2 separate regions of the Homo sapiens genome follow, and region 2 is linked to region 1. The links come from fine-mapping of genetic effects on gene expression. A gene starts in region 1. The other region holds a variant in brackets. All regions are shown on one strand. Distances are between the middles of the regions. Region 1 holds the start of CAVIN4 (caveolae associated protein 4). Region 2 overlaps MSANTD3-TMEFF1 (MSANTD3-TMEFF1 readthrough).

Region 1 (11,731 bases):
AAAAATATGAATATTCACACTAAGTTGGGATAAAAGCTAGAAATAGCCTCCTGCTACTTTAGGTCAGGTTTTTCCACTGAATAATTTCAGGTCAAGTTAGGTCTTGCTGTCAAATATGTTATTAAAAAATATTTTAAAGAATTTTTGAATATGGGTGTTACAGAGCATGGATTTTGGACTGGTAGAAGGAAGAAATGAGAAAAGAAAAAAAAGGACAGATATCAGCCAGTGAGGCAGGGGGAACTCCCAAAGAGAGGAGTAACCCCAGAAGTCAAGAGGAAAGAAGTTTCAAGGAGAAAGGGAGGGGCTGGGTGCAGTGGCTCATGCCTATAATCCCAACATTTTGGGAGGCTGAGGTGGGAGGATCACTTGAGGCCAAGACCAGCCCAGGCAACAAAGTGAGACCTCCACGAAAATTTTAAAGTGTAGCCAGGCAAGGTGATGCGCACCTGTAGTCCCTACTACTTGGAAGGCTGAAGAAGGAAGATGGCTTGCCCCCAGCAGTTGGAGGCTGCAGTGAGCTATGATTGCACCGTAGAACTCTAGCCTGGGCAACAGACCAAGACCCTGTCTCTTTAAAAGAGAGAGAGAGAGAGAGAGAAAGAGGTCCAATCGTGTCAAATGTGTCAAAAGAATAAGGATGAGAATTGGATTTGGGACATGACACACACTGGAAACCTTGAGAGCCAGCCCAACCACAGCAGCTAGAGGAACCCAACTGAATAGGGAGCATTTCTCAAACTAAACAGACAAAAGTTGAAAAATCATGAGATTTTTAACTGAACCACGAGTTAAAATTTCTAAAAGAAACTGTGCCCCCACGTGAGATCCAGATTAAATCTATTCAATCAAAAAATATATAAATATATACAAAACACATTTATGCATATTCCAAAACCTATCAGCCTGATAGTCAAGAAGATATCCCTGGAACCTTATTTCTTTGGATACTTATTTAAAATTAAATTCTTTGGCTATAGGATTAGAGAGTCTAGGAGCTAAAAAAGGCAGGGGTGGGCGTCTCATAGCTCTCTGATGAATCAGTTTGAAGCAGCGAAATTATTCCTCTCCTTTCCTGACACCTGCTGCAGGGAGTAGCTTCAGCAACACAATGTGGGTTGGCACGGCCTGAGAGGGTATAATTAGAAAACGAAAGAGCCAAAAGTTAATTACTGTTAGATAGGGGAAAAAACACAATCTTGCTGTGAAGAAATCAGATATAGCTTAGCCCAGGAATCACATACCCTCCTTTAAGTACACAACAAATAATATAAAATCAGGCTTTAAAGTAAAACAAAACAGGAGTAGAGTCAGAAAAAAGTACTTGTTACGCAGATCTATTAGTTGCAACTCCAATGAGACAGCGACATCATGAGCTAATGGTGAATAGACTGTTATAATAACTGAAGATTGTAGATGTTGAATTATAGTTGACTTCCAAATATAATTGTATCTTTTAATATAAAACTCCAGGTAAAAAGACCATTTTTGTAACAGAATGAATACTGTGCTTCAGAGTACTGTGGGCTGGATTGAACATCAAACTAATATAGCTATGGGATGTGAGGGCGATTGGCTGCAACATCTGTTAACCCACTGATTGCCAGGGTTGATTCAGCTGATCTGGCTGGGCTAAGTGGGTGTCCCCTTCCTCCCTCACCGCTCCATGTGTGTCCCTCTCGAAGCCGCACGCTTGGTCGAAGAGGATGACCATCCACGATAGAGGAGGACCAGTCTTTGGTCAAGGGTATACAAGCAGCTGCACTCCCCTGCTAGAACTTCCAAACAAGCTCTCAAACTAATATAGCTAGGGAAATTCTGAATATACAAAAGTCTGAGGCTTATTAGTGAAGATATAGTATGTTCGAAAAGAAATAATAAATGTATAAGAAATAGCAGGTAATTTTTACTATGGCTGAATTGCTTGGTTTCAAGTTAATTTTAGCAGAAGGAGCAATCTCAATATAACCATTTATATACCTTAACTATGATGATTAATTATAACTAATTTTAACTGCTAAGAATAACCATGTGACCATGTATACAGCTTTCTAACATCTAATGAATCTTTGAATCAGAGTTCTATGTCCATTATTCTTTTCTCTACGAGCTGTTCCATTATAAATGATAGCAATTACTTTTTGACGAACTGCTGCTACTCTGAACAACTTAATTATGCAGAATCTTCATGGCATTATTTCTTACAAGAGAAGAGATGTGCCCTAAACTAGCACCCTTCAGTTGCTTTAAATAACTACAAGGGATCAAAGAAAGGAACAATTAGCAGTAAGTTACAGGGACTAAACAGGTGAATACAGAAACATCTTAAAGTTTAAAGAAGAGTTATGTCAATCAACAGAGTCAATGGAAACTTTTCAGAAACTTCTTTGCTCTTGCTTTTGTAAATCTTAATTGGCACTTAGTCCACTGCTTTGCACAAAAGTTCTCAGCAGTCGTGAATGCCAAATATGTTTCCTGGCCATGCGCCCATGCCAGTGGAGGGTAAGATATACCCACAATTCTGAACATCTTCAGAAGGCAAATCAAAGAATGGATACTACATTTCCCACTACATATACTAACACTGGAACTGGCCTCTGAAAATCAGGTGACTGATTTTTTTTCAATTTTTCAATTTTTTTTCTTAAGACAGGGTCTCACTATCACCCACGCTGGAGTGCAGTGGCACAATCATGGCTCACTGTAGCCTCAACCTCCCCACAGGTGACCCTCCCACCTCAGCCTCCTAAGTAGCAGGGAACACAGGCACGCGACGACACACCTGGTTAACTTTTCTATTTTTGTAGAGACAGGGTTTTGCCACATTGCCCAGGCTTTTTTTTTTTTTCCCAAATTTTTAAGCCTATAGAAGGACTTCCAGGGACATGAAAGGAAAGGGAAATGATAAAGAACTTCAAATAGCATAGTCTGCCCTATCTACCTTTGAAATAAGCAACTCTTCACTCTCCTATTACTTTTCCTAAATAACCTACAGGCTCTTAAAAACAGACCTAAAATACCACTCCACCATCCCAGTGTAACCTTATCAGTCAACAGAGGGCTATGGAGAATTGCCTAATGTGTAAAGAATGCCACGGGGAGTTATGGGCCACATCCCTCGTGTTTTACAAATTATCCTCTACATAATCCAACTGTGTTCCTATTTCATTTAGTTTATATTCTTCTAGTTTTTTTCCTATGTACATAAGTACTCATTTTTAAAATACAGGTGTCATTTTTAAAAATAACACTTTATATGCATCAGTGAACATTCCTACACACATTCCTGATTTTATGCATAGAACAAATTCTTTGACATAAATTTTGGGGCCAAAAAGTTTGTGAATTTTTAAATTTCTTAATACATACTACCAAATCTGCCTTTCAAAAATGTTTTATCAATTAATATTTCTACCAACAGAATATGAAAGTGTTTTTTCCCAATCCTTAAATTAACCTCTGGGTATAGGTTTTAATAACTGCCAACATTTAAATAGGTGAAATTAGAATTTTATTCTTATTTGTGTTTTGTAAACTGCCTGATAATGACAGTTTCCCACTTTTCTACTGTGAAGGAATGTTCAATTTTTTTCCTTTTAACTGTAAGAGTTTTGAAAATATACCATAGATATTATGCATTTGCCATAAATATGTTCCTATTTCCAAAAATATGAGTGCCAAGCGCAGAATAATATGGGAACTTAGCTCAATACACAATGCCACACACAAAATATTATATTAAATCACTTAAGTAAAAAGACTTTGTAATCAAACATAGGAAACTACTTATGTGACTCATATATTTGTATTACTATAATAATAAGAAAAATAATTGCCTCATTGTTCATTGGAAAATCGCTATCATTGTGATCTATATGTAAAAATTCCAATACACAAATCACATTCTGAAAAGTTTATATCTACTGTTTAGGCCTTTCCAGGCTCTCCATATAAGCAGAAAAAACCACTGCTACTGGTTGTCAGTTTCTTCTTTTAGAGAACAAAGAAGTGTTTTAAACTAGAGGCTTCTGAGTCTTCTTCTAGTTCTAACATTTTCAAAGTCTATGAGAGGGCTTCATGCTAATAAGGCTAATATGCTGAAAGGGCCTTACCAATATTAAGTTTCAAAGGCAAGAAATAGCCTAAGCTATGAGCCACAGTTCATATTACATGAAATGGTTGAGAAGCTCAAAATACCGAAATGACAGATAGTACTTTGGTTAACAGAGAAATGGTTTTATCCTGAGATTGCTGCTAATACAGAACTCCATTGTATTAATATATACAATAGTTAAGATGTGACACTGGAAACCTCTGATATGACTTTTGGCAATTAAAAGATGCAAGAGATTAGAACAAGCAAGCTGAACACAAGTGCAAGCTTACCTGGAATATTACCACGCGGAATTTGTTTTTCTTCATTATTTCCTCTTGCTTGACTTCAACTTTTTTAACATGAATTTGTTGCTTCTCCACCCGGGCTTTCACATCTTTAATGTGAGCACTAACTTTTCGGGTTTTCTCAAACAATTTGTTAATGATATGCCCTGTATTGCTATGCGACTGTGAAAGCTTCAACAGGTCAATCTGGACGGATTTTATGGCATTTTCCATTTCCCTGTGTCTCTCTTCTATTCTCTTCTGGCTTGCCTGCACACTGTCCACGATGGAGGCTACTTTGTCCAGCACAGTCACAATGGTAAGAGCAGCGTCTTGGTCTTCATCTTCTGTAACACTCGACAGGCGATTCTGGTGGATTTTATCAGCATTTGAAGCAGACCCATTATGTTCCATTTTATTTATTTCTCAGCGTAAGATGTCCTAACCACAATCAATTCTGGCACTTGGAGCAAAAAGTCAGCTTGATAACAGGCAACAGGGTTGTTTAAAGAGTTGGAAACCCCACCCCTAGAGAACGGTCAAGTATTTATAACTACAAATACCCATATGTGACTGTTCTGCAATCTGAACCCTTGCAAAGCACCGGGGACTGTTCCAAACATGCTTGCTGACTGACTAAGGGACTCAAATAAGACTGTGTGGGTAGAAGAGTAAAGCTTTTTAAAAAAGTTCACTAAAGCCACCATGTAACTAATATTAAACCTAGAAGCCAAATGATCAAAAAAGCAAACTCCAAATGTTGGGTAAAGCTTTTGCCTTTAGATAATTTCAATCAGTATTTGTAACAGTAAAGGGGAATTCTGAACCGAAATCTGCTTTTTCTACTAATTTCACATATTAAATATACTGAAACACCAATATCAAAAAATTTGGTAAATAAACACACCAAAACAGAGGCCATATAGTGAAAACATTATATTATAACATGCTTTTCCAAACAAAATATTAAAATTAATAATTTTTAACATATTCTTTAAATTCTACATGCATACTTTTGAATATCTAAACTACATGTTAAACAGCTGAATACATTCTACTCACACTTCAGATCTTTAAACACCAACAATCTATGAATATTAATCTATTACTACAGGACAAATTTGGATATACGTCTTGGATAAATTTTAAGCTCACTTTAAGAGCACCAATCATTAACAATCATTTTTGTATTTTATTCACAAACACTGATACGATTTGTTTATTTATGTTAAAACAAACATTTTCTTTAAAAATGAATGTGTATTAAAGTAGTTTAACTGGTAGAATAGGCTTTATTCCAATCTGTTTGTTAAACAGCCTATTTTCACAATATCTATATCTACTTTTCATTGATCTGTTCCATCATTACTAACATATTTGTTCAAATTATTAGGACTATTTTTTCAAAGGGAGGAATAATCAAATTCCCCAGTCCATATATCTTATAAATATTTTACACCTAATACACACAGCTTTACAGTTCATGCGATAGGCAGTGTCTAAAAAATCAGTTACTAAATCTCAAAAACATTTAAATATCTATTTAAACACAGTGTCTTCTAGATTTTTTTTGTAAGAAAAGTAATCTGTAAACATCTTTACCTTTAGTTCATGCTTGGTCATTTGCTGTGGTCATTGTGGAAGAAGTGGATATGACTTTATAACCATTTGTGAAGTAGTCCATCTTTGCAAAAATATTACATTCCATGGGTAAAGAACAAGTCTTAGAATTACCATGTGGTACAAATTTGTGAAAGCAATTTCTGTATTTAAAAACATAAAACAAAGACTACTAAACAGTCCAAAACTGTCGTAGCTGAATATTCTAAATACGAGCCAACAGTACTACACTAAAAATGTCCAAAAATAAGGCCTCTGAAATAAATATTTCCATTCTTTAAAAAAAGACATAATAAATGTACATCACATGGTCAGTGTACATATAAAAGTCATCAGTTTAAACCATTCTGGATGACGTATCTGAAGTAAAATGACCTAGGTTTTGCTTCTGTCGACGTCCTCTATTGTTTTTGGGGCATTTTCTGTTGCATTAAAAAAAGAAAGAGAGAAAAATATTGTTTTGATGATTTTGTTCAGGATATTTCAAATGTTTCCAAAGTAATACACATTTTGCACATAAAGCCACATTGCAAGCAATTACATGAAAGGGAAATGAGATGGTATCTGTTGCAAGACAAGATGAAGATGAACACAATTCAGACTGCTACCTCCTCTACAAACCTGGAAGTTGAGAGGATTAGATATGTAATATAGGTACTGGCACAAGCAAAACTCATTACCAGTGTCTATGCTACTATGTATGCATCCCTGACAGATATCCCACCCTTCCTCCAGCCTAGAAACTCCCTAGTCACAGTGACTGATAACATGAAACCCCTGACAGGAGAAAGGACTCTGGCCTATGTACTTTCCCTGTGCATTATGAGAAGACAGCTCTAAAATGACAAGAAGAGCTTAGATGAAGGGAGAAATCAGGAAGAAGTGTGCTTATTAACCTCAGCTATGAATACATAGGAATGTCTACTGATTTTAGACAATGACTCAAAAGAAGCTGTCCACACCCTCCTGGGGCAAACCACAGAAGCCCATAAGGAACTGCCACACTGAGGATAAGGGACATTCTTTAACTCTGCTCTCATTTTACCACGTTTCTCAACAGCAGTACAAATCTCACTGGGTTGGAACTGCTCTTGTGCCTGCACACTAGATTGCAAACACAAGATGCTGTGCTATGCAATGTGGAGTAAGGGGGCTAAGACGAATTCTGGGCTCTGCTAATAACTAACTGTGCAACCTCAATTCTCCTATATGTAAAAAATAAATTAGGAGTTGGACTAGCTTCCAAAATCTCTGCCAGCAAGAAATTTACAACCTAATGGAAAGAAAGTCTTATAACAATGAGTACTCCTCATTTCGTTCGATTTCAAAGAGTACAGCTTTGCCTTGACTAAAAGTGTTGACAATACTTCCATTTTGTATATGGTTTTACCTCACTAATCCTCATTTTAAAAGTGTGAGGTAGACAGAGTTGGAATCATCTCCATTTCATAAATGAGAAAACTAGCTGACAGATCAAGCAACCCTCTTGTACTGTCACTAACTCACCATGACCTTGGAAAAATTCCAATTTCCTAGTGCCATGGTTTTTAAATCCATAAAATCAGGGCGTTTAGTTAAGGTGATGTTCAAGGTTCCTGACAATCTGTCATTCTATGAGTCTGAAAATATGAAAGGCGATTCCAAGAAGAAGAAAAAAAGAAAAATTGACTCATGCAGTCTTGATAAACAGGTCAGTGGGAACATCCTTTTAAAGAAGATTCCTCCCATGTGACAGCCGCCACGGTATATGTCAACAGCTGTCTCATAATGGACTGTGTGGGAGAGATACTTAAAAACTCAATGGAAATAAATCCAAGTACATAAATGTTCTAAATCCAAGATAGCAAGACATTCTAGGGGAGGAAATACCATAATAAAAAGACAGGCCTCCAGGAGAAATCTGTGATAAATTCAATGAGATGACTCTTCAATCGTAGAGACAGTGGGCAGTAAAGACACTGTGACATAGTTAGAAATACACTGTGATGTCTAAGTGGCTGTGAGGGCAACAAGGAGGGATCTGGAGTATAAACTAGAGGGTACCTACTTCAAAACTGCCTGCCAGGTAATTTTAATTGAGTAGTTGAGCATTATAGCACTGAAAGAGTTGGGTAAAAGACTGTTGTAAGGGGGCTTTCCTAGCTCTAGGACCTTAGACCAAGGTACTTCTTATCTCAGGGCTTCAGTTTCCCAACTTCTCTAAATGAAGGGGTTGAACTCAGAATTGTTTCTCATTGACTCTGACATCCTTTGATCCTCTTAAAAATGGCACTATCTGGCTGGGCACAATCCCAGCACTTTGCGAGACCGAGGCAGGTGGATCACTTGAGCCTAGGAGTTGAAGACCAGCCTCGGCAACATGGCCAAACCCAGTCTCTACAAAAAAAAAAATACAAAAATTAGCAAGGCATGGTGGCGCATGCCTGTAGTCTCAGCTACTCGGGAGGTTGAGATAAGCCCAGGAGGTGGAGGTTGCAATGATCCAAGATCATGCCACTGCACTCCAGCCTGAATGACAGAGTGAGACCCTGTCTCAAATAAAGGCACTATCTCCAGGCCTCAAACATCTCCCCTTACTTTACCTTAATTTTCCTTCTGCCTTCCAAATCATTCATTACCTCACTCCTATTTAACTCTAATAATGACTTAAATGGTCTTCCCCCTACCTCATATGTTCACTACTCCAATGAATTTTTCAGATGACTCATTAATACTCTGAAAAATATGGTTTATACCAAGTCCTTCCCCTGCTCAAAAACCCTAAACTGCTACAAAATCAAGTTTGAACCCTGCTCCCATGCAATGGTCATACTGGGCAAACATGTTTCCCAAGATGACTCAACATGGAACCTTTCAGTGTAAAGAATGAATGGGAATCAAACTGAATCCAAATCCAGACAATTCCACTTACTAGTCGGATGACCACAGACAAATTACTTAACCTCTGAGTCTATATTAAATGGCTACAGCCAGTCATGCTGTTAAATGTGTTTTCCCTATCTTCTCTTTCTGTTATCATTATTTGTTACATGATTATGTCCCTACTTTGATCTACCGTCCAATTTTATATTCAGTAGTCTTGCCTAAGGGCAGATCATCTGTTCTGTGAAATAAAGCGCACTGACTTTCATGCCTAGGTGTTATGAAAAATATCTGTTACTTGGAGAACCTTTTCTTTTTTATCATTTCTAGATTTATCATCTCAGCTCCAGATGGCTGAGACTACTGAAGGTCTGGCTTCTATCCAGACCTTGGATAGAAGGGCCACAAATCCATTATGGCCTGCCAATATCTGTATTTGATATGCTTCAACCCTCTGCCCAGAATAATGCAGGGAAGTGGAGAAATGATGCTTATGAGACTTCTGAACTGAAGCTTAAAGAAAGAGGTAAGCAGGAAGAAAAGCATTAGACTGGGAAGCACAAAGACAACACGAACTTGCTGGATTTACTCTGACTTTTCTCAGGCCCAGTTCAGTCTGACTTATGTATTTCTACTCAGTTTAGAAAAGACCCATTTTATGCCACTGCACTCCAAATAAGTCATTTAATTTATGACGAATAATTTTATTTATAATACAGAATTTTAAAGCTTATTACTTATCGCTGCAATCCTGAAAATGAAGTAATGTTAACACCATGATATCACAATAAAACTATCTTCAGCCTCTGATTTCTTCCTTTCTTACTATACTAACTGTGAGTAAAGTACGTTCTTAGGGCACAGAACCCCTTGCAGTTGTGCAGGGCTTAAAAATCTTCTGCATGGATCTCCTATGCATGTGCAGATCATTCTAGAAATTCTGAGCCAGTCAGGGTGGTTCACGCCTATAGTCTCAGCTACTCTGGAGGACCACTTGAGCCCAGGAATTTGAGGCTGCAATGAGCTCTAATTGCTACTGCACTCCAGCCTGGGCAACAGAGTGAGGCCCTGTCTCTTAAAAAAAAAAAAAAAAGATTGCTACTAACATTATTTTCCCAGAATACAGTGTTCAAAGACTGTATACAGTTCTCAGATCCCTAAATTCCTTTATCTCATTGACTATTCTCATTCCCTCTCTGCTTGTCGCCCAGATATACCTGTAAGACTGGGAATTAGTCCCTGCCCGTATCCTAAAGAAGAAGGATAGGGAGAGACCACTGAAAACCTCAGGGAACTGATCATAAGATTTTTCCTAATAGACTGGTGGCCTCAAAGCATCTATAAATAAACAGTTGCCTGCCTCTAATTTAAAGTTGATATTTCTTACATCATTACCTACCTTGTTATGCACATTACAATTGCTACTATGATGGCAATCTGTACAGCTCCAATAATTGCTGCAATAAGAACATGAGTGAGCTTTTGCCTACTTGGCACTACATAGAGAATACTAAAGTCTGTCTTTTCACAGTGCTGTCCAGTGTAGCCAGATTCACATCTGAAAAGGAAAAATATATATATTCCTATGAAAATTACAAATTTTGATACTCCCAAGCTTTTACATTAAAAAATACAAAATAGTAATAAAATTTAAACAGGAATAGGATATCATGCACTTTCCTACCATCTGGGGGAAAAATGTCATTTGTATGTTTCCCTACTGTCTTTCTGATATGCCTACATGGTGCGTCTTTCACCTAAGTTATATCACATTAATTTTAAAGTTGCTGAATATTGTTAATGTATATCTTTTTTTGTTATTGTTGCTTTTGCTTTTGGTGTCATATCTAAGAAATTATTGCCTAATCTAAAGCCACAAAGATTTACTCCTTTTTTTCACTTTTTAAATTAAATTTGCTTAAAAATTGACAAATAAAATTACGTATATTTATCATGTACAACAGGGATCCCCCCCAACTCCCGGGCCATGGACAGATATTGGTCCATGGCCTGTTAGGAACCAGGCCACACAGCAGGAGGTGAGTGGTGGGCAAGTAAGCAAAGCTTCTTTGTATTTACAGCTACTCCCCATCACTCACATTACCACCCAAGCTCCGCCTCCTGTCAGATCAGCACTGGCATTAGATTCTCATAGGAGCGCAAACCCTATTGTGAGCTGCGCACACAAGGGATCTAGGTTGAGTGCTCCTTATGTGAATCTAATGCCTAAGGATCTGTCACCGTCCCCCATCACCCCCAGATGGGACTGTCTAATTGCAGGAAAAACAAGCTCAGAGCTCCCACCAATTCTACATTATGGTGAGTTGTATAATTATTTCATTAAGTATTACCATGTAATAATAATAGAAATAAAGTGCACAATAAATGTAATGCACTTGAATCATCCCCAAACCATCACCCCCACCCCCAATCCCCAGTCCATGGAAAAACTGTCTTGTACGGAACTAGTCCCTGGCAACAAAAAGGTTGGGGACCACTGATGTACAACATGATATTTGGAAATGTATAGACATTGTGGAATGGCTAAATCAAGCTAATTAACATATGCATTACCTCATATAGTTATCATGTCTGTGGTGAGAACACTTAAAATCTACTCTCTTAGCATTTTTTTCAAAATAGATACATATAATTTCAAAACAGAAATATAATACTCCATCCAGTGACTATAATATAGCTAGCATTATCTATTCCCAGTTCTAAGACATGTCAGTTATTTTCAATTTTTCACAATTATAAATTAGATGTGGTAAACATCTTGGTGAATATGCGCTTTTCTATATTTAGTGTTATTCCTTAGGGCTAAGTACCTGAAAATTAAGACTATTGAAAAAATAGGTATAAACAT
Region 2 (12,019 bases), 88 kb after region 1:
GATCATTATAAAGAATTTGGAAAAGATATTTTAAATATAGAATGTTCTAATTGCCCACAACATATGAGTAATAGTAAAAGACAGGAAAGAAAAGAGAACGTTTTTATCTAGGAAAACAATGTAAGTGAAAGCAGAGAGAAAGTAATTTCATAGTACACACAAACAATATTAATATCAGTGGTTCCAAAACCATGTTCCTCAGGAACACTGGTGTCCTGGACTAGGGTGTGCCTTCATTAAAATCAAATATGAAATTTTCTCATTTGCAAACGAAAAAAAAATCAACAAAAAAAACTTCTCATTTTTAAGGGGTTTTTTCATTTATGTTTCTTAAACCTTCAATATCTGAGATTATTTCAGATTTGTTGCTGGCTATCAACTAACATCAGATGATTTCAGATATTTTGCTGGCTAGCAGCAAAAGTATGTTCAACAAATAGGTAAGGAATACTAATACAAATATTCCAACAATGTTTCATGAGAACACAGGTCAGGTCATGAATGTCACAAGCTCATGAATGGACATTTTAAATTGTTTTGTAGTTGCAGCAGTCACTGCTAATTGCCTACCTTGGATCTATTCTCCCCTTCTTACTTAGAGAACTCCAATTTTGTTCAGGGAAACAAAGTACCCAACTAAATAACCTACATTTCTTGGCCTCCCTCGCTCTGTGTTCATATGTAGGCACTGTCCCTTCCTCCTTCATTCTTCCTCTGTTTTTTTCCTTGACTGGAGAGCAAACCTGTTGCCTAAAGTTGCAGCAGCCAAAAGATGACAGACCAGAAAGACCAGGAGCAAGACAGTAAGATGGAGGAATCATAAAATCACCACACCGCCTGTGGATTTCCTCTTTCCAGACTTACCATTATAGAAAATAATGTATATAAATGAATACATTTTTTAAAAAGCCCTTATCATATAAGCCACCACTGGTCACACCATTGATACATGCAAACATAATTCCAATAGAATGATTGTGTGTAAATTTAATAAGATAAATATTTCTAAGCAATGGTCTTAAAAAATTTTGTGCTACATCAGAGACCACATGATAAAATTTATCAAGAGAATCATGACTTGCTGGTGCTCTGACACCTTACTTTTTTTTTTTTTTTTTTTTTTTTGAGACAAGGTCTCACTCTGTTTCCCAGGCTGGAGTGCAGTGGTGTGAACACGGCTCACTGCAACCTCTGCCTCCTGGGCTCAAGCGATTATCCCACCTTAGCTTCCCAAATAGCTGGGCCTCAGCCTTCTGAGTAGCTGGGGGAACACAGGTGTGGACCACCATGCCCAGCTAATTTTTGTATTTTTTGTAGAGATGGGGTTCACCATGTTGCCCAGGCTGATCTTGAATTCTTGGGCTCAAGCCATCTGCCCACCTCAGCCTCCCAAAGTGCTAGGATTAGAGGCATGAGCCACCACACCCAGCTGATTTCTAACAAATTTGAGAACAGAATCACTGCCTTAGCTTAAACCCAATACAGAAGGAATCTATTTTGGGATCATCTTCTGAATGTTCTTTGTTTTCAAGTATTCTGTACAGTACCAGGCATCAAGAGGACATTCTACTACCTGTCAATGATTATGATGATTACCCACCTGCCTTCCTGAAACCAAAATGGAAATTCAGTAAAACGGATGAGCCATTACTAAGGCCCTCAAAAATGAATTCTCCAAATAGAAATGTTTTACACAAAGAAGTACTCACAAGAGTTGCTCAGAACAAAATATTTTGCTCTTGTTGCAAATCTGCCCCACAATTCTCAAAATGTAAAACTTGTCTCGAGAATTTCATTAACATTTCAAAGCTCAGAAACAATACACACTAGTGGGAGAAACTCTGCTTTCTATGAACCTGAGCTGCCCAAATTCCCAACTTCTGGCAGCAACAACTAGGTTCAGGCTCTGATTCAAAATGAGATCCAGCAGCCTTCCAGAATGATACGACTTTTCTACCACCCTTCCGTTAAAAAGAAAGGTAGTTTTGGGGATCTTATGAGTTAGCTAACACTCACGGAGAGCCAAAAGGAAATAAACTTCATTAGATGTTACAACAGAACTCAGGGTTTCTCAGTCTGGGCACTATTGACATTTGGAACCAGATAATTCTTTGTTGTAGGGAATATCCTGTACACTGGAGGTTGTTTAGCAACAGTCCTGGCCTCTGCCCACTAGATGCCAGTAGGACCACACCAGCTCTGACAACCAAAATTGTCTGGACATAAGCAACCACATCCTGTGGGGGGGAGAGGGGGGAAGGGGGCAAAACTGTCCCCAGTTGAAAACTACAGTAAAGGGAAAGCAAACACTTTACATCTAATTCTCTGACACAATCACTACAAGGAAAATTAGTCAAATAATCGGCAATCTCAAAAGATCTCAACATACTGCCACAGCTATTCTCCATTTCAGTAGAGGAACCTAAATATATTGATTCCAAGTTTATGTTAAATCCCCCACCTTTAATAGTACCTTAACCTCCAGCAGGCCTCACTTCCTCCTTCTTCCTATAGCAACTCTTCTTCTTCAAGGTCAAAGCAACCTCAGATCCAGTGGCTTTTTTCTTAAATCCTCCAATCCTTTTCTTGACCCTTCTAGAGCAGTTGACACTTCTGGCCTCCCCTTGTAACCAAACAGTCTTCATTATCCCCCCAATTTTCTGACCTCTTTTCATTTACCCACTCCTTTTTCCTTCTCCTACTGCCCAGTCCGTGTCAATAACACTCTTAGAACTTATCTCCAACTTAATCAACTCTCCAGATTAACCAAAGTGTGTCATTCTCTATAAAACCTACAGAGCAATGCCTATGGCACAATGAATTCTCAAGGCTACTAGGCCCTCTCTAGAACATCCATGAGCACTTTAGCTCCAACCAAGGTAGCTGTTCTTGTGCTTCAAGAGTCAGCTACCCAGCCTATGTAGTTGTTACTACAATTATGTGATTTCAACATTTCATATGAGTGAAAATAAATTACTTCTATGAAAACTAAACTCAAAGACTTGAATAAGGTGAGCTACTTTTTAAAAAAAACCTACAGTTGCATTTAGAATTCTGCATCCACAAGTCTTTAGCTTCCTTTTTAAAGGGATTAAAACTGGAGTTTGTTATCAATGCATTATACAAGTGGTTTGTTCAAGAAAGAGGAGGCCAGGTGCGGTGGCTCACGCCTGCAATCCCAGCACTTTGGGAGGCCAAGGCGGGCAGATCATGAGGTCAAGAGTTCAAGACCAGCCTGGCCAACGTGATGAAACCCCGTCTCTACTAAAAATACAAAAATTAGCTGGGCGTGGTGGCACGAGCCTGTAATCCCAGCTACTCGGGAGGCTGAGGCAGGAGAATTGCTTGAACTGCGACCCAGGAGGCAGAGGTAGCAGTGAGTAAGATCGTGCCACTGCACTCCAGCCTGGGCTACAGAGCGAGACTCTGTCTCAAAAAAAAAAAAAAAAGGAAAGAAACTATTCTCAAAGAAAAATTATAGGCCCTCTTTCAAAATATTTAATAAATATGTGTATGTTAAAATAAAATGTTACATGCACTTATGAATCATTTTTGTGACTCCCTACTTTAAATAACTTTCTCAATTAACCAAATAACTACCAGATTCTTATGGGACCAAGACAAAAGGATCCCTACTGTATAGTAAATGTTCTGCCTTCAACCATCCCATGTGTCATCTCATTTTGTTCATTCTCTGGCAGTATTCACATTCACACCCACCACTTCGAGTCTTCAAACCTGGTTTTCCCAACCATATTAAAGCCATGTCATCTGTTTTTGCTAGTGCTATTTCCAGTCTTCAGAGCACTGCTGGGGAAAGTCCTATAAATTAATGTTCCCTAAGGCCTTATTAACATGTGGAAAACTTTAATTCATCTCTACTGGATTCTGTATTGACTCCCCACAGAATATGTTCAAACTTTTCACCTTGTCCTTTAAAAAAATTTGTCATGAGTTTATACTGACTGTCTAGATGTTAGTAGTATTTGGAGAAATCTGCCCTTTTTCAGAAAAGCAAACCAATCCAATCTGACAGGACCCTGCTGGATGGTTTCACTCCCAGAACAAGGCCAGTTTGTTCTTGAACATGTACCCAACTGCCTACAAAACAATTCCATGATCTCTATACTGAAAATAGCAGAAACATTTAAAATATTTAAATATTTGAAATATTGCACACCAGGAAATGGTGTGGTACAACTATGGAATATTATAAAGCTATTTAAAGATGTATATTATAGAATATGGAAATAAGCTTATTAATGTTAAAGTGAAAATGCAGACCACAAAACTATATACACAGACTATGATTTTATATGAAAAACCTGCCAGGCACTGTGATGCAGGCCTGTAGTCCCAGCTACTTTGGAGGCTGAAGCAGAAGGACCAGGAGTTGAAGATCAGCCGGGACAATATAGTGAAACTCATTTCAAACACACACATACACACATACACACATACACACACACACACACACACACACACACACACACACCATACATATAAGATAATCCAGCCAGGAATAAACAAAACCGGTAACAGTAACCTGTTACAGCAGTTAAACAATGAGTGATTTCTCCCCTTTTCAAGTTTCTATATTGGTTATTATTTAATGGGGAAAAAAAAAAAAACCTCAATGTGATTTCAAAGACAACCCCAGAGACAGTTTGCTATACCACAGACGAAGCATAAGTTTAGATATCAGGAAGGGCCAAGTTCACGTGGTAGTTCTCCTTTTAGAATAATACTTTCCTTTGATATTGTAATGATTAGATAATGTATTCAAAAGCAATCGTGCCTA[A/G]AACAAGTAGTTATACAACAAATATTCACTTTTTTTCTTTTCCCAGATATGACTTCAACTCCCAACCAATCTGAGGGGCACCTCTAATGACACAAATCACTGAAAATACATTTCAGGGTATAAAATCAAGCAATAGATTTAGCAAATGTTGACTTCAAGTCCCAGGAAATCAGAAAAATTAGAAATTAAATCCTCTTCAACTTGTTTACTAATCATATTAGTTATCTTCTAGTATAAAGATATGAGGAGGAAAAAGAAACTTTACCTAATATTTTATGATACAAAACCAAAAGCAGTTTACATTAATATTAAAAAGCATCAACTGCAGAGATGGCTAAAACTTCTCTAAGCTATACTTAACGAAAGAAATTTCACATATGCCACACAATCGTCTGACTCCAATATTTTTCATTCCATTTTGCATACTACTGCCAACTACCCTTTGTTAAACCACATTGCTCCTGTCAATCCTCCACCCCCACTCCTGCAATCTTCCCCCGCTGCCTACTTTAATTCTAAATGCCTGTATCAGGACTCTCCAGGCAAGGTGACAGGGAGAAAAACTACTGTAAGATCAGATGGAAGAAAAGGCCTGGGTACAGAGTTGAGTGGTTAAGTCTCCCAGGGTCTTTCCAGGCCTCGCCAATCCTAGCCAAAGATCTCAGAGCTGTGACACTCTCTTCCTCATGGATGTTTCTGATCTCTGGGGTTCTGACACTAGCCTGGCAAACCATAAACTGAATCTGTTATGGTGCGGTTATTAAAATTAATGATGAAAAATCTCTACATTTCCTGACATGACACATTTAAAGTCAGGCTTTTTAAAATGTATGTAACACAAACTTTTTTTAATGCCTATTTTAAAAACCTGGAAGGTATACCCACCAAAATAGGAACCACAGTTATCTCTCGGTAGAATTTAAGCTTTCTTCATTATTCTGTATTTTTCTGAATTGAGTTTTACAACAAACTTGTATTACTTTTAAAATCAAATAAAACAATTACATGCTACAGTATATAAGAACCTTGAAAATTATGTAGGCAGGGTGCAGTGCCTCACGCCTGTAATCCCAACACTTTGGGAGGCCAAGGCAGGAGGATTGCTTGAGCCCAGGAGTTTGAGATCAGTCTGGGCAACATGGTGAAACCCCCATGCAAAAATCTGCCAGGCGTGGTGGCACATGCCTGTAGTCTCAGCTACTGGGGGACTGACATAGGAGAATCACGAGCCGGAGGTCAAGGCTGCAGTGAGCCATGATTGCACCACCACACTCCAGCCTGGGAACAGAGATCTTATCTCCAAAAAAAAGAAAAAGGAAAAGAAAATATTATGTTAAAAGAAATAACTCAGGCACAAAAGGCTACACATTGTATTATTCCATTTATATGAAATATCCAAAATAAATAAATCCACAGAGAAAGTCTCTATGTGGTTACCAGGGGATGGGGGTGTGGAGTAGTGGGACTGACTGTTAACAGGTAGAAACTTTCTGGGGTGATAGAAATGTTCTATAATTAGATGGTAGATAGTGATGATCACTGCACAATATAGTAAATGTACGAAAACCACTGAATTGTATACTTTAACATGCTGAATTTTACATTATGAAAATTATCTCAATAAAAAATAGAAATAATTTTTAAATCATATAAATCATGCTGCTTAAATTTTGGAAAAATTGAAATAAAAAAATTAAAAACAGGCATTATAATATGTTTTTTAAGAGGGACACCCTGGCATCAGACCACCTTGTCCAGCATCCCGGCTCTACCACTTATCACAGCTGTGTGAGCTTAGTAATTTACCACCTATGCCTCCATTTCTTCATCTACAAAATGGGGACAATAACAGCACCTATCTCAAAATTCTGACGGAGGATTAAAGATATGGAAAGCACTTAGAGCAAAATAATAATACACATAATAAGTACTCTATTAAGTGTAAGCTACTATTGTTTTTTATTAGCACCAGTTCTGGAGAAAGTATAGAAAAATGAGCACTCAAACCAACTGTGGAAGTACATAGTGGCACAACCTCTCATGTGTCCATATGCATTGCCATTTTAATTGTCTTTATCCTTTTACCCAACATTTCCAGGAAACTATAACAGATATAAAAGAAAAACATACAAAAACCTATGTCCAAGATTGTTAACGTCAGCACTTTCTGTAAAACCAAAGTAGAAAACAATCTAAATGTCTATCTTTTGGGAATTAAATTATTGACATAATACTACACAGACTTTGGTAGAAACACATGTAGTGATATGAAAAGACAACTAAGACCTATTGTGAAAAAAAACACATTGTAAAACTATACATACAGTTATAATCCCATTATTTTGAAACATATGCCGGTTTACATATATAAGATTTTGCAGGTATACTCAATACATTTCCTTCATTAAACTGTTTTTTAAATCAATAATTAATCTAAACACAAGAACAATGTCCTCTGGTTCTATTTCTAACCACTATCCCTTAGTGTCTGCAACACTAAGTAGAATAGGAGGTAGCCAGAACCCAGGGAAATCACCCACAAAGATGAAAATCTACACAGCAACTTGCATACTGGCACTGAAAAACCTGGTATTAATGATTTTAAAAGATAATTTTTTAAAGACTTCACAAAATTCTGGTGCATTAGAAAGAGTTCCAGACTTGGGGTTCCAATTATTTGATTAAGTAAAAGTAACTATATGATCTTGACCAAGTGCTAAATCTGAGAATCCCAGTTTCCTAGAATTTAAAAAAAAAAAAAGGAGTATAATAATCCCTTATAGGATTCCAATGGTTATAAGAGATCCTTATAAAAGAACACTGCAAACTATGAAGAAAACTGACTGTTACTCTGGCTGAAACCACCAAAAACAAACTTAAAAAGACACTACCATAACCAGAAACCCCGACAAATTTTGTTGTAAAACATTGAATAATTTTTTTAAAACTAGGTCTAAATAAATGGGAATTAGGATGTGCTTATGGTATAACCTTGAAGTAAACAATGGTAAACACAAGTGTACCACCTAGAAAACACCTCAAACCACTTTAGAGAGAGAAGGAGGCTGGGCGCAGTGGCTTAAGCCTGTAATCCCAGCACTTTGGGAAACCAAGGCAGGCAGATCACCTGAGGCCAGGGATTCGAGACCAGCCTAGCAAACATGGTGAAACCCCATCTGTACTAAAAATACAGAAGAAAATTAGCCAGGTATGGTGGTGGGCAGCTGTAATTCCAGCTACTCAGGTGGCTGAGGCACAAGAATTGCTTGAACCCAGGAGGTAGAGGTTGCAGTGAGCCAAGATAGTGATACTGTACTCCAACCTGGCTGACAGAGTGAGACCCTGCCTCAAAAAATACTAATAAATAAAAATTAAAAATTTTTTAAAAAATAAAATAAAGAGAAAGAAGAAAAAAAGCTATAGAAAATGAATACAGGACACTAAAAGATTGAGCTGACTTGTGAACAATAAAGAATCTAAATATATCAACTGGGCTATAAACAACAGAATTGATACAGCAACATCAGCAGTTTAGTTTCACGTGCAAAACAATATTAAATGAAAGCTGACAAGGCAAAAATAAACTGAACTTAAAAATTCCTAGCCAGGCACAGTGGTTCATGCTTGTACTTTGAGAGGCTGAGGCGGGAGTATCACTTGAGCCCAGGAGTTCGAGACCAGCCTGGGCAACATAGAGAGACTCCGTAACTACAAAAGATAATTTTTAAAAATTAGCTGGATATGGTGGCACACGTCTGTGGTCTCAGCTACTCAGGAGGCTGAGGTAGGAGGATCAATTGAGCCTGGAAGGTCAAGGCTGCAGTAAGCCATCATGCCACTGCACTCCAGCTTTGACAACAGAGGGAGACATTGTCTCAAAAAATAAAAATAAAACATCCCAGAAGGAGATCTGACCTCTGAACAACAGTGGCTCCAGCATAAACAGAAAATGCAAAGCAAAACAACATGAATATTTTTTTAAAAGTTCAGGCCGGGTGCTGTGGCTCACGCCTGTAATCCCAACACGTTGGGAGCCCGAGGCGGACCAATTATCTGAGGTCAGGGGTTCAAGACCAGCCTGGCCAATATGGTGAAACCCCATCTTTACTAAAAATACAAAATTAGCTGGGCATGGTGGCACGCGCCGGTAATCCCAGCTACTCAGGAGGCTGAAGCAGGAGAATTACTTGAACCTGGGATGCAGAGGTTGCAGTAAGCCGAGATCACGTCATTGCACTCCAGCCTGGGCAAAAAGAGCAAAACTCAAGTTCAAAAATTTTCTGATGAAAAATGAAATAATTTAGCATAAACACTGAGATTAAAGAAGAGAATGGCAATTATCCCAGATTTCCTCTTCATATTTTTCCATATTCCTCAAATTTTCTACACAGATTATATACTGCTCTTATAACAAAGAAAAAAGGTGTGGGTTTTTTCCCTTTTTTAATCCATGGAAAAGACAGACTCAGAATATTTGCAAAAAAAAAAAAAGAGAGAGAGAAATTGAGCTGTGGTTGAAAATATAATAACCTGCCAAAGTTTTTAAAGGTACAAGAATACGTTAAGAACTTTAGAACCTTAAATGACTTCTGAAAAAATGACAAGGCTGCTGAGCCATGGAAAATACATGATACTTTTTAAAAAATAGATGAATTTGAATAGTAGCAAAGGAATTACAATAAATTAAGTTACCTAATAAACTAAAAGCATATACGGAGAGAATTTTCAGATTTAAGTATAGAATTTCCAAGTACATGAGAAGTATGCCAAGCCCCTAAATGCTCAAGAAGCTAATAATAGAATTATATGAATAAAGAAAATAGTTAAGTTAAGACAATGTTTCTAACAATGTAAAAAATGAAGGGGGATAAATAGGTTGAAGTTATCTCCCAATCCAGCTTAAAAGAAATTGAGAATTTAAATTCCATTAAAGAAACCACATATATAGGGAAAATGAAGGATAACAAATAGGAACTTAAATGAAGATGGTTGGTTATAACAAAGAAGACAATAACAAAGGTTGGTGAGGATGTGGAAAATGGAATGTTCACACATAGCTGATGAAAATGTGAAATGCTGCAACCATTTACAATAGTTTGGCAAATCCTCAAATGTTAAACATAGAGTTTTACATGGACAGCAGTTTGGCAAATCTTCAAAATGTTAAACATGGAGTCACCACGTGACCCAGGAATTCCACTCCTAGGTGGAATACATACACCCAAGAGATATGAAACAATGTATTTACACAAAAACTTGTACATGAATATCCATGGTGGCATTATTCATAATAGTCAAAAAGTAAAAACAAAAAAATGTCTATCAACAGATGAATGGATACTGAATGGATAAACAAAATGTGGTATTATCGAGACAATGAAATATTATTCAGTCAAAAAAAAGGAATGAAATTCTGATACATCCTACAACATGGATTAACCTTAAAAACATCATGCTAAGAGAAAGAAGCCAATTATAAAAGGTCATATTGTATGATTCCATTTATATGAAATGTCCAGAATAGACAAATCTACAGCAAAAGATAGTAAATCATGGCCAGGGTTGGTAGCTCATGCCTGTAATCCCAACATTTTAGGAGGCCGAGGCAGGCAGATCACTTGAGGTCAGGAGTTTGAGACCAGCCTGGCCAACGCAGTGAAACTCCGTCTCTACTAAAAATACAAAATTAGCCAGGCGCAGTGACAGGCACCTGAATCTCATGCCGAGGTATGAGAATCTCTTGAACCGGGGAGGCGGAGGTTGCAGGGCGCCAAGATCACACCACTGTCCTCTAGCCTGGAGGATAGAGACTGTTTCAAAAAAAAAAAAAAAAAGTACGTCAGTGGTTGCCTAGGGCTGGATGAGGAGAGGTGGGGATTGGGGAGTGACTGCTAAAGAATGTAAAGTTCCTTGGCCAGGCGCGGCGGCTCACACCTGTAATCCCAACACTTTGGGAGGCCAAGGCAGGCGGATCACCTGAGGTCAGGAGTTCAAGACCAGCCTGGACAACACAGTAAAACCCCGCCTCTACTAAAAACAAAAAAATTAGCCAGGCATGGTGGCGGGCGCTTATAATCCCAGCTATTCGAGAGTCTGAGGCAGGGAGAATCGCTTGAACCCAGGAGGCAGAGGTTGCGGTGAGCCAAGATCGCACCATTGCACTCCAGCCTGGGCAACAGAGAGAGACTCCATCTCAAAAAAAAAAAAAAATGTAAAGTTCCTTTTGGAGGAGATGAAAATGTTCCACAACCTTGTGACTATAGTCGAAAACACTGGATTGTGCAATTTAGAAAAAAGATGATGATGGAGGGTAGCACAGATATCAATTACTTAATTTAATGTAAATGAGTTGAATGCCACTGAAAGCAGAATGATCTATAACTCTATTGGGAGACAAATCCCAACACCTAAAAACTAAAATATAAACACAAATTCAGAAAAGGTTGGGTCCTATGATAACTTCAAGAGATACTTGAAATCTACTCTATACAAAGGTAAAAAGTACAACAAATTATGATACAAAATAATGTTCAATGTATATGTCCTACATAGAATAACAAAAATATAAGAAAAACTGAAAAACTGTGAAAAATAAACCTATCATTATAAGTGGAAGTTTAACTATTTAATTAAGAGGAGATGACAAAACAAAAAATTTAAAGTATGGAACTAAAACATAAATTAACCCTCTCCCTTTGGTAGGGGCCAACTTGACAGAGCCAAGTTCAGGGGAAAAAAAAAACAGACAGACAGACGATAGAGAGAGAAAGAGTAGATACACAAAGAGAGACTTAAAGCAAATGTGGTAAAATCTTAATTGGGGAATCTGGGTGTACTATTACAACATTTTTCTAAGTTTGAAATTACATGAAAATAAAGTAAACTTAAGTAAAAATAATAGTTAATATAACATGGAGACTGAGAAGTCAAGGAAATAACTCTTCTGGATAGAAGAATCTTTCACAAAATTTGTTTTCATACTAGAATACAATGACACACCTTGTTTGTTTGTTTGTTTGTTTGTTTGTTTTTTGAGATGTTGTTTCTCTCTTGTTGCCCAGGCTGGAGTGCAACGGTGCGATCTCGGCTCACTGCAACCTCCACCTCCCAGGTTCAAGCGATTCTCCTGCCTCAAACTCCTGAGTAGCTGGGATTACAGGCATGCGCCACCATGCCCGGCTAATTTTTGTATTTTTAATAGAGACGAGTTTTCATCAT

Evidence for each region.
Region 2: its variant is fine-mapped to the expression of CAVIN4 in stomach (GTEx, PIP above 0.99).

Annotation. Positions count from the first base shown.
Region 1 is chr9:100,571,207-100,582,937 of GRCh38, reverse strand. It overlaps CAVIN4 (caveolae associated protein 4), which reads right to left and starts at 4,859. Exons shown (of 2, transcript NM_001018116.2): 1 at 4,387-4,859. The coding sequence starts at 4,794. It overlaps MSANTD3-TMEFF1 (MSANTD3-TMEFF1 readthrough), which reads right to left. Exons shown (of 10, transcript NM_001198812.1): 9 at 10,262-10,420; 10 at 5,302-6,422. The coding sequence ends at 6,338. It overlaps TMEFF1 (transmembrane protein with EGF like and two follistatin like domains 1), which reads right to left. Exons shown (of 10, transcript NM_003692.5): 9 at 10,262-10,420; 10 at 5,302-6,422. The coding sequence ends at 6,338. It also overlaps the pseudogene RN7SKP87.
Region 2 is chr9:100,483,313-100,495,331 of GRCh38, reverse strand. The region is part of intron 1 of MSANTD3-TMEFF1 (MSANTD3-TMEFF1 readthrough); the gene reads right to left. The region is part of intron 1 of TMEFF1 (transmembrane protein with EGF like and two follistatin like domains 1); the gene reads right to left. Among named protein-coding and RNA genes, the nearest start is that of TMEFF1, 16 kb to the right of the region's middle. RefSeq lists an enhancer at 2,867-3,367. The variant A/G (reference allele first, on the strand shown) is at 4,802.